3 linked regions of the Homo sapiens genome follow. The main gene of each other region encodes a partner of the protein of the gene in region 3 in a complex. Each region holds a gene or a part of one and is shown on either strand. Other genes may lie near its edges.

Evidence for each region.
Region 1: HNRNPU (region 3) and IGF2BP1 share a complex: the UniProt entries of both Homo sapiens proteins name them as parts of the coding region determinant (CRD)-mediated complex.
Region 2: HNRNPU (region 3) and SYNCRIP share a complex: the UniProt entries of both Homo sapiens proteins name them as parts of the coding region determinant (CRD)-mediated complex.

Annotation. Positions count from the first base shown.
Region 1 is NC_000017.11:49,042,385-49,045,984, reverse strand, and holds part of IGF2BP1 (insulin-like growth factor 2 mRNA-binding protein 1), read right to left. Parts: intron 2,558-3,600; coding exon 2,435-2,557; intron 2,019-2,434; coding exon 1,899-2,018; intron 995-1,898; coding exon 920-994; intron 96-919; coding exon 1-95. UniProt on the Homo sapiens protein: RNA-binding factor that recruits target transcripts to cytoplasmic protein-RNA complexes (mRNPs). This transcript 'caging' into mRNPs allows mRNA transport and transient storage.
Region 2 is NC_000006.12:85,636,235-85,640,058, forward strand, and holds part of SYNCRIP (heterogeneous nuclear ribonucleoprotein Q), read right to left. Parts: intron 1,123-3,824; coding exon 1,009-1,122; intron 910-1,008; coding exon 733-909; intron 1-732. UniProt on the Homo sapiens protein: Heterogenous nuclear ribonucleoprotein (hnRNP) implicated in mRNA processing mechanisms. Component of the CRD-mediated complex that promotes MYC mRNA stability.
Region 3 is NC_000001.11:244,857,930-244,861,753, forward strand, and holds part of HNRNPU (heterogeneous nuclear ribonucleoprotein U), read right to left. Parts: intron 2,546-3,824; coding exon 2,406-2,545; intron 1,446-2,405; coding exon 1,346-1,445; intron 913-1,345; coding exon 800-912; intron 346-799; coding exon 82-345; intron 1-81. UniProt on the Homo sapiens protein: DNA- and RNA-binding protein involved in several cellular processes such as nuclear chromatin organization, telomere-length regulation, transcription, mRNA alternative splicing and stability, Xist-mediated transcriptional silencing and mitotic cell progression.

The sequences.
Region 1 (3,600 bases), on a different chromosome or scaffold from region 3:
GATGCTGGCACACGTATGTGGGTCTCCAGCTTCACTTCCTCCTTGGGACCAAAGAAGTTCTCCTCCTTGAGTTTGCCATAGATTCTTCCCTGAGCCTGAGAAGAGGAGGTAATTGTTAATCAGTGGTTCATATATCTGTGACAAAAGAGAAAAGTGGGAAAAAGGAAGCTCCAGCCCATATTTTCTGGCCCACAGGCCCTCCCCATCCTAGGCGGGCTAACCATCTAAGGCAGGTGAAGGGCAAGGCTCAGGTGGGCAGCTTGTCAGCATTCCTTCTGCTTAGCTATCATACTGGAGACCCTGGGTGGAGATTATGAGTTATGAGTAATTGAATAAACACTTCCCAAGGGAAAAAATAGTTCCCAGAGGAATCTAATTCACAAGCTACAAACCAGACCTATGGAATCTGGACGTGGCACTGACCAGCATTTCAAGGCCCTGAATGGCAACTAATCAAGTCACACAGAGGGCAGGCCTGTCTGACTCTCCAGTGGCCCAGAGAGCTGTCCCAGTCCTCTATCCTCACATATGTTAGGTTAAGCTAGTTGATGGTTCATTTTTTGGCTGTCTGATCAGAAGTTCAAGAACCTTAGGATTTAGTGGGGACATAAAAGATGAGAATTTGGCATTAAAGGCCTTCCTTAGAAATGACAGCAGAGTGCAAATAAGATGCCCTCAGACTTCTTTCCTTCCCATCTTCTTCTGTGGACCTTAAAAAGGGAAGACGAAGTCAACAGAAATCCAGTTTGATGTCAATTTGAAAATAGCTCTGCAGCCCTTTATCCTGCATGGAAGGCTTAAAGATGTGATGAGGACTTGACAGCTAACGGGAAACTGACCCAGCCTTTTTCCTACCTCAGGGGAAATACCCAACCTCAATTCCTCCATGTTCAGCTTGGAAAACAATAAAGACCAAAACCTTGAATTGGGCCTCTGGCGGTCCAGTGATGATAACCATACGAACTTTGGAGTCAGGTGTTTCGGGTGGTGCAATCTAAAAAGCAAAAAGCTAGTCAATGAGGGACCCTCTATGGGAAGACCCCCACCATGTCCACTTCATCCAGTTCCCCTTCTACCACCCTTACTCCCAACTACCCATTCTGAAGACTTAGGGGAGGAAGAACAAAGACCCTGAAGCCCACATCATTACGCCTTCACACCAGAATTATTAGGAGGGCAGAGGTGGTCAGTTAGAAGGATTGGCTTCAATGACACTTTCTAAGTAGGGCCTCCTGCCCCCTCCACCTACCAATCTCCCAGAGAGGTTTCAGTGGAGTCTTGCCAACAGGCAAGGACACAAATGAAATGACCAACGGATAGAGGGCAGTGACTGCACCTCCACTGGAGAACAATCAAGGTTTTTGCTCAAAGCTTTTAAGACAACTAAAGCAACCGGATTTAGGTTTGTGAAACTCTAACAGCATCCTTGTTTCACTATGACAGATTCTCCCTTCTCTCTCCCCTGGACCTTGGCCAGGGAAGGTGACAGACAACTAACACTTACTTGGTGTTAGTATGTGAGCGAAGGGCTTTGGCTGCGTAGCCTCATAATATTGTACTGACGAGGAAAGTGAGGCTCAGATCATATAGTGTATTGGGGGAAGGGGTGATGAGATGGATCTTGGATTTGAACCCATCAGTTTGTGTTAGAACCTAAGTTCTCTTTCTATGTTATAACCCTGCCCCTGCCCAGCCTGAAAACCCAGAAGCACTGAAGCCATCCCATGGGGACCAAGCAAGATCAAAAACAAAGAGGACTTCGATTCCATGGGGGAAAGGTCCCTCATATGACACACAGAATTCTCAAATGAGTAGGGGGAATATGGGAGAAAGTGCAGAGTGATAAAAGCAGAGACCCCTCCCTTTCCAGAAACAGGAAGACCCACAGAGCAGATCACCTTGATGGAGGCGCTGGCAAACCGGGAGAGCTGTTTGATGTGCTGCCCCTTCTTGCCGATGATGGCGCCCACTGCCTGGGCGGGGATAAACACCTGCACCATCTCCTGCTCGGGAGCCTGCTGCCAGGATAGGAGGCGTTGTTACCAGGGGGCCCAAGTAGCATGGCCCAGAAACCCTCCACTCCCCTGCCTTGCATCCTCAAGGAGGAAGGAGTACAGGCACCAAACCGCCACCCTGGGCTGCCAAGGGATGCTGTGAGCTCTTTAGCTCTTCCTATGCCCAGTAGGGCTAAAGGGAAGAGGCCAGGAGAGAGTAAGGGAACAGTGCTGTCTATGCCCCGGGAGCATTCTAGGCAGACATTTGGGAGCCTCAGAGCCAGTGGCTAGGAGCACTGGAGAGGAGGGATGCCTCTGAGACCTTCCTTCCCTCTCCCTGCAAACTTGCCAAGCATCCAACTCCCAGAGCATGCTGAGTCCCCCTTAAGGGAGGCCACATATGGGCCCAGGGATCCCGTGTAATAAGATCTTCCACCTACCATAAAGGAGCTATAGGGAGCAGCCCCAGTAACGCTGCTGGGAGGCGGCGGGACTGCGCTGGATGAAGCTGGGAAAAGACCTACAGCAGCCAGGTTCAGGCCAGGGATCAGGTGAGACTGCAGCTGGGGAAGAAAGATGAGGAGGAAGAGTCAGCACACCCTGACAGGGGCTTGTGTGTGACCCCCGCTGTATAAAAGGCGAGTAGCCCCAGAGGCAAGTGGGCCAAAAACATGAATTACATACTTTTCCACAAAAGCCTATTCTGTGCTTTTCATACACTCTCACCTACACACTTCGGGTGTGGAATTTTAAGTGATATGATGTTCTCACTGGACTAACGGCTAGCAATTGCAACCAGAAATGCCAAACAGTTGTACACCCTCAGGAGTCCTTCCTCTCTGGCTGTTCAGACTGCTGGAGACAGACGATAGACCCATGACACTATACTATAACCCCCTATATGAGAAAAAGGCGTGGAGACAGAGCTCCATTGGACTTCTAGGACTCTGATTCTAAACATTTTTGGTCCTGTACCCCAACCCCAAGTCTCCTTTAAAAATCAGATGAGTTGTGTGCAGTGGCTCATGCTTATAATCCTAGTACTTTGGGAGGCCAAGGTAGGAGAATCGCTTGAGCCCAGGAGTTCTAGACCAACCTGGGTGACACAGCAAGACCCTGTTTCCAAAAAATAAAATTTTAAAAAATTAGCTGGGCATGGTGGTGTACACCTGTAGTCTCCTAGGTACTTGGGAGGCTGAAGCAGGAGTATTCCTTGAGCCCAGGGGGTCAAGGCTGCAGTAAGCTATGATTGCGCCATTGTGCTCCAACCTGGGCAACATACCAAGACCCTGTCTCAAAAAAATAAAATAAAAATCAGATGAAAACGATGGACCCCCTCATTTCAATAAAGTGCACACAAACACAAATTGTACACATACTTGGAATCACAGGACTCAAAGCCCAAGATTGGACCCCTACTCTAGGAACCAGGTGAAGAATCCTTGCTAATTAAATACTATTTAAATACTATTTCTGATAGTCGAAGTCCAAAAGCATCAACTAAAGCTCCAAGGCCACACGGCACAGGGCACATGTCCATCACCCTGCACCCCACAAGCTGCTGTTGCTAAGACTCAGGAAAGGATAAGCAGAGGGTACTACCCAG
Region 2 (3,824 bases), on a different chromosome or scaffold from region 3:
AGGAGTTCGAGACCAGCCTGGCCAACATGGCGAAACCCCATCTCTACTAAAAATATAAAAATTAGCCTGAGCGTGGTGGCAGGCGCCTATAATCCTAGCTACTCGGGAGGCTGAGGCAGGAGAATCACTTGAACCTGAGGGGTGGAGGTTGCAGTGAGCCGAAATCATGCCACTTCAGCCTGGGCAAGAGAGAGAAACTTGGTCTCAAAAAAAAAAGAAAAGAAAAAAGAAAAATTTCCTTTTTAAAAAAGTTGGAAAGATTACCAGGTCCTTACCTAACATCTGGTATTTTTAAATCAAACATTGCCACTCACCATAAAATCTTTTGTTTCATCAACTAGAAATGTATCACAATGTCTTTTGTGAATTATTTAAGAAAAAGAGATGGCTCAGGTATGGCCAGGAAGTATGAGAGCTCTTACCACAGTTACTTTTCTTAATCTTTTCACATTCCTATAAATTTAAACAAACACACAAAAACGTCACTAAGCCAGATGTTTATAAGAACCAATTGCTAGGAATTCTACCATGCCGCCTTTTAGATGCTGAATCCTATCAACTATACATGCAAAGAATAACACTACAATGCTTGCACAGTGATGTGGGAAAAAAAAAACCTGCCTAAATCAGTACTTCAAAAAATGTTTGGTAAACTCTTAGGCACACTAAGAAAAAAACTTGATATTAAAGACAGTGAACGTGAAAACTGAAGGGGAAAAAAGGACAACTTACCAGTTTAACAGCCTCCTGAGCTGCTTCTTTTGTACAAAAAGTGACAAACGCATAACCTCTATTGAGACCAGTGAGTGGATCCATCATTAGACGAAGATCCCATATAGGTCCAGCTTTCTCAAATAATGGAACAAGTTCATCCTCAAATAGATCTCTTGGGATCTTTCCCACAAATATCTGTAAATTAAATATTAAGTAAAAACCATGGAGAATTGCTTTAGGAAACCAGATACCTGTGCTTTTACTACAAAAGGTACAAGTTTTTAGTTGCTTTACCTCAGTGCCAACAGAAGGCTGCTGACCTGAATAAACGGAATCTGGAGGTGGTCCTCCATACTTCCTCTGTCCAGTGGTCACATCAAGTGTGTAGCCTGTTCTTTCCAAGAGTGCCTTGAAAAGTTCAAACGTCATTAATACATTTAATTCACTAGACCACACCCATATATTTAGCAGTTAACATCCATCTTGCTCAAATCTTTCCAATTATCTTGGCATGTTCCCTTATAAAAACAGGTTTGTGATGTCTGTTTTAAAATTTCCCCTTAAATGTGTACTTGTTATACTCCTAAATTATTATCAGAAGTCCAGGGTCCTGTTCAAATTACTTTCTAGTCTCCACTTAATTACTGAATAGTGTGCTTAATGGACAACAAAAAGTTAAGACCAATCCATCAGCAACTTTCAAGACAGGATGTATTACTATGTTAATACCATCTTAAAAAATGATTGTACCTAATTTGGTTGAGCATCTTTCAAATCTGGATCTCTCACCCAATAAATTCCCTATAAACCCCACTCCTAGGTACATACTGCCATTCTGGGCATTGTGCCAACCTCAGAAGAAATTACACTTCCCATACCAAGTCTAGAAACTTGGGAGCTACAGGGAAAAAAAATCTCCTATTATTATTTGACATTTACGTGCCATATTTCATGGGATAGCATGGGTCCTTCAGAAAAAAGTAACAGCCAAAACGACTTTTAAAAACTTTATGAAACTGCAACGTTACATAACCTCTACATTTTAACTCCCAAAAAGTAACTGTTAAAATTTACACAACTCATATTTACTCAGAGCATTAGGTGTTTATTCCTTATTCTAGGCAAAGTATAGAAAGAAGTATAGGCTGGGTGCAGTGGCTCACACCTGTAATCCCAGCACTTTGGGAGGCCAAGGCGGGTGGATCAGGACATCAGGAGCTCAAGACCAGCCTGGCCAAGATGGTGAAACCCTGTCTCTACTAAAAATACAAAAAATTAGCCAGGCGTGGTGGCACGCGCCTGTAATGCCAGCTACTCAGGAGGCTGAGGCAGAGAACTGCTTAAACGCTTAAACCTGGAGGGGCGGAGGTTGCAGTGAGCGGAGATCGCGCCACTGCACTCCAGCCTGGATGACAGAGCAAGACCCCATCTCAAAAAAAAAAAAAAAAAAAAAAAAAAAAAGGTACACTCCTCCATTATCTGAAGGAAAAAGTCAAGAATTATTCCCCTTCTCCACTGTCTCAACCACAAAGCACAAAAGTGGTTTTCTAAACAAAACCAATTTTATTAGCTAGGACATTCTGAAATAAAAACAGACTAATCCTAGCTATCTGACAAAATTTATCAAAATGCATAATCTAGGGTCACCTCAGTCTCTGAAAATTACTGGACAGATTTTTAACATTTTCTACTCAAAGGACACTAACTGTTTATGAAAAATACTGTAATTAATAAAAACATTCATAAACTTGCTCACATCTATAACATAAACTAAATGAGTAATAGCTCATCTTTCCATTTTCTCACATGTAATCCCTATGCTATAAACGGATTTTTTAACCTTAATAGTTAAGACCCAAATAACACTTTTTGTCAATCCATAAAAACAAAAAGGAAAAACTTATTCCCTCTGTCAAACTTCCTCTAAAAATGTCTCTATGCCTTTTTACCACAACTTAGCTCTCATTGAAACTGTAAGCAGCCAGGCATGGTGGCTCACACCTGTAATCTCAGGACTTTGGGAGGCCAAGGTGGGTGGGTCACGAGGTCAAGAGATTGAGACCATCCCGGTCAACATGGTGAAACCTCACCTCTGCTAAAAATACAAAAATCAGCTGGGCCTGGTGGCACCCACCGGTAGTCCCAGCTACTCGGGAGGCTGAGGCAGGAGAATTGCTCGAACCCGCGAGGTGGAGGTTGCAGTGAGCCAAGATCACGCCACTGCACTCCAGCCTGGGTGACAGAGTAAGACTCTGTCTCCCAAAAACAAACAAACAAACAAACAAAAAATTAAGCCACCCCCTTGCAAAAAAAACTGAAAGCTAAAAGTCACAAACTAAAAGTTTAAAAACTTTAGTTCTAGCTCACCAATGCAAACTTGATTACAACTGAATTACAATGGAGACAACTATACTCCACTTTTATGGAAAAACTAGATTTACAGATCAAACTCAATTCACTCACAGCTAGATCTGTGAAAGCCTCCAATTCATGGTTGTCTTAAACAGCTAACTCCATATACCAACCTTTTCCATATTCTAGGCTTTCCCTGTTTCCACACCACTACAACAATGCTCAAGGCCTATACCCTTAACTGATTTTCTTAAACCATACGCTTGGCTCAAGAGCACTGGCACACTACAAAGCACACCAGGTTAAAAAGTAATACAATCACCACATTGTCTATAAATTAGAAAACTCACCAATATAAATATCAAAACCAAGCTGAATTTGAAGCCATTCACCATGATTTTAAACCAAAAAAAAAGCCTCCTCCTCCTAGCCTCAGTTTCTCATCTACATACCCACACTAAACAATCTTATTGTCAAAGCTGCTTTGAGAAATAGTCTAATAATCCATACTGATGGAAGTGGAGGGCAGCAGGGTTAACATTCTAAATTCATTGGGGTTTGAGACTCCTAAAAAAAAAAGCCAGTTGCCAAATGTACATTCTCCATCAGTATTTCAACTGTCAATAAGCTGGCTTTGCAGCTTTTCAAAAAATATTCTAGAGGTATCATGGGTGTGTTTCTTTATACTAGGACTACCAATAGAACAGATTTAAACATCAGTAGCTGGATAACATGATAAACTTCACAGCAAATTGCTT
Region 3 (3,824 bases):
TCATCTAGTTCTTCTAAATGTCATTTTGTGCCAGGCAAGCAATATTCAAATGCCACAGTTAAAAAAAAAAAAATCCCTTACTTCACAATCTTTCTTCTCTTCAGGCCCCTTTGGTCCTCTAACTCGATCCTCTAAGGGGACGTTCTGGATGAAAGTATACTCTTCAGGTATTGGAAAATATGGCTTTTCCTTCTGACCAAAATTAAATTCAACTGCACAGTTGTGGCAGAGAACATGCGGGAACAGTGGCCGTCCAGCAAGAACTTCCTTACTGATTTTGAAGGCAACGCCAAGATCTTGTCCATTCTTAGCATACGAGAGTTCTACTTCATCACTTTCAAAGTTCTGTTACACAGAAAAAAATTCAACAGTTAAAATCTGCTTCCTTAAACTTTCTAAAAAACTAAGAATTAAAATTAGGAGCAAAGCTTATCCTGTGGAAGCTACAGGTTAAAGAACTATTAGGTGGCCTTTAAGGGCTACACAGTTAAGAAATCTGATGGTTGTAAACCATGAAGCACGTATCTCCAGAACCAGAAACAATACTGACCTAGAAGCTAGACTGAATTTTCTAGGTCAATTTCATGTTCACTGTTTTCAGTCAAAATGAATTAGTGAGTTCCTCAAAAATGTCCTGTGTTTTCCCAATTCAACTGCTGAATGAAGTCTTTACACTAATCCAGGGACTGGTGTATTTTGTTGCTCATATTGAAAACTGACCTCAGTAAAGCTTCTTTAAAGTTCCTAGATATAGCTACTAACTTTGCCATTTATACATAGAAAGTTAGCTTTAACTTACAGCAAAACATGTAATCACATCATTTTCATCAAACTTTTCTCCATAATCTTCAGTCTCACAGTTGCATGTTTTTATTCCTTTTAGAGAATACCCATAAGAAAATTCTTCTTCACCTAAGAAAATAATTAATCTTCATGAAGTAGATGTTTAAAATAGTCCAAAGACTCATCTATTTTACTACTTAAGATGTAGGCTACAAGAGAAATAAGCATATAACCTAATCACCTGTCACTGACACTATTACTTTTCTATCTCTGTACCAGAATTGATGGAAGTTAGGAGGGATATATACGCAGAGACCAAATTAGTTGACGATTTGCATATCACGGGTAAGATTTTATTTCAACCATTGGTCATAAACTTCTAATAAAGGAACAAAAACTAAAATGTAGCCTGTGCCTACTATGTGCTAATATTACCTGTCTGAAGTATTAACAGAATAGATAAAAACAGACAAAAGGCTTAGAATGCCCTCTAGTTAAAAAACACTGAAATCAGACCCTCCTGAACATTCATGAGCCCACATCAGTCAAAAAGAAGCTTTACCAAGTAACATTCCACTTGTAGTTAGTGACCAGCCAATACGAACTTCATGTATGTCAATATCTTTTGTATATAAATGCCTTACTGGGATCTTCTCTGTAACCTGAAAGTCAAATCATTAAATAATTAAAATAATACACCAAGGAGGTAACCCCTTAACTCTCGCATATTTCATTGCGCCACGGGCTAATCTTCCTCTAGCTATAAATACAAAGAAGGCACACTCTAGCCCACCCCCAATATTTGTAAGAACTTTAAACTGATGTGCTTATAACTTGAAATTTAAAGAGTTAAATACTTATTTGACCCATATTTAAAAGAATACTTAATATTTTTAAAGTTCATGTTGTCAGTCTTTAACTTAAAGCCAATTAAAGGATACAATTAATGTTTTTCTCACCAACAAAAGCAGTAATGTAACCAAATTTTATTTTTAACTCTTTGGTGGCCCTTTCAAATGCTTGATAAAAATGAAGTACCCTAAATAAAAAATCGCCTAGCTCTGCATGGCAAGTTCTAACATAACAACCGTGATTAACTGTCACAACAAAATGAAGGTTCCAAGCTCCTCTTTTAATTTACAGGAAGCTTCAAAAATAAGTACCTTTGATAACTTAGCAGTATGAAGCACCTGTAATTCCAGCATTCTGAGAGGCTCAGGCGGGCAGATCACTTGAGCTTAGGAGTTCAAGACCAGCCTGGGCAACATGGTGAGACCTTGTCACTATTTTAAAAAGGAAAAAAAAAGGCTGGGCACAGTGGCTCATGCCTGTAATCCCAGCACTTTGGGACGCCGAGACAGTGGATCACCTGAGGTCAAGAGTTGGCGACCAGCCTGGCCTACGTGGTGAAACCCCATCTCTATTAAAAATACAAAAATTAGCCAGGTGTGGTAGTGTGTGCCTCTAGTCCGAGCTACTTGAGAGACTGAAGCAAGGAGAATCGCTTGAACCCAGGACGCGGAGGTTGCAGTGAGCCTAGGTCGCACCACGGCAATCCAGCCTAGGGAACAGAGTGAGACTGTCTCCACAAACAAACAAACAAATCATAAAATTGCATTTACCTTCATCTCAAAACACACTTTGCCTTTTGACACACCATAGGATGCTCTTCCTCCAGCCCAAAGAAAAGCAAAACTCTCCATTGTAAGGGAAGAAGCACTGAGACGATCTCTTGATATTTTAAAATGTAGATCACAATTATCTGTAATTATATCAAATACTGTGTTACTTTTGACATCCAATGTAAACATATCTGCTATGTAGACAAAACTTGGTTACTTAATTTTTGCATGTACTTCTTAATGCTGCACAACTTTTCTCCACATCATGCTGTTGTTCCAATTTTCAGTTTAAAGCCCCACTCCCACCAAGTCACTCCTGTTAAATTATGTACTGAAAAGTAAACTGCCTGTGAAACTAATACCAAGGTTTAACATGTATATTTTAAGTATTTAAAATAATCAAGACAATGTGACATTAATACATACCTGCTCTGCTCTTTACCTTGATTTAGAGGCAAGCAGTAGAGGATAGCAGGAAATCAAAGTGAAGCATGCCAGAACCAGGTAGATTTACCAGTGCCACATTAAAACTGAAGGGAGGCCACGACCAAATTATTTTAAAATAGGAGTATGAGCTGCTGTTGATCCTGCACCAGGGCTCTAGCTCCTAAATTCTTTTTCTAAAACTTGTGAAGAAGACAGCCTAAAACTATGAAGTACAAACCTGGCCGTCTAATGCTGTTAATAGTGCAGCATTTTAGGTCCTCTTTACCCAGGACTGCCTGTTCAACAATTAGGGATTAATTGCTTCCCGGATTATCCAAATCCAAAGTGTCTTTAACCCAGCTACCTATGGGTCACTGGCTCATTAACATGCACTTCCTCAGACTTCTCACTTGAACAGCTAAAGTCAAGCTGGAACTCATTTTCTTTTTACTGATCAGAGAAAAATAAATCTACAGTTTGGAATTTTTCTTAAATTAGAGTTATTCTAATCAACAGAATTTAATTCAACAGATTGTTTGAATTCAACATTGTACTTATATTGACATATTCCTGATTTGCTAAAAAATCTAACAATTACATTACCTGTGTGAGTCACCACTTCACTACCTTGCCAATTCCTAGCAACTTATTTATACAACCCAGAATTTCACTAAAACTTTCACATCAACTAACTCCTTTTTCACCTGCAGTTTTTTCTTTTAAAAAGGCTCAGATGACTATCTCAACCTTCTGTAAAGGATATTCCAGTAAGAAAGAGTTTTACATTGACACTCTTACAAATCTGAATAAAGCCAATTTGTACAAGAAAACATGAGAAGCTAAGCTCCAATGCCTTCCATCTAACACAGCAGGCTGACACCATAGCTGATACTTTTGAAACAGTTATTTTTATCCTTTGGTCTATTTATCACACCCAGAGTTGTACATTCTCATCACTAAACCAACTACGTTTTTTTGTAACAAAAAAAAAAA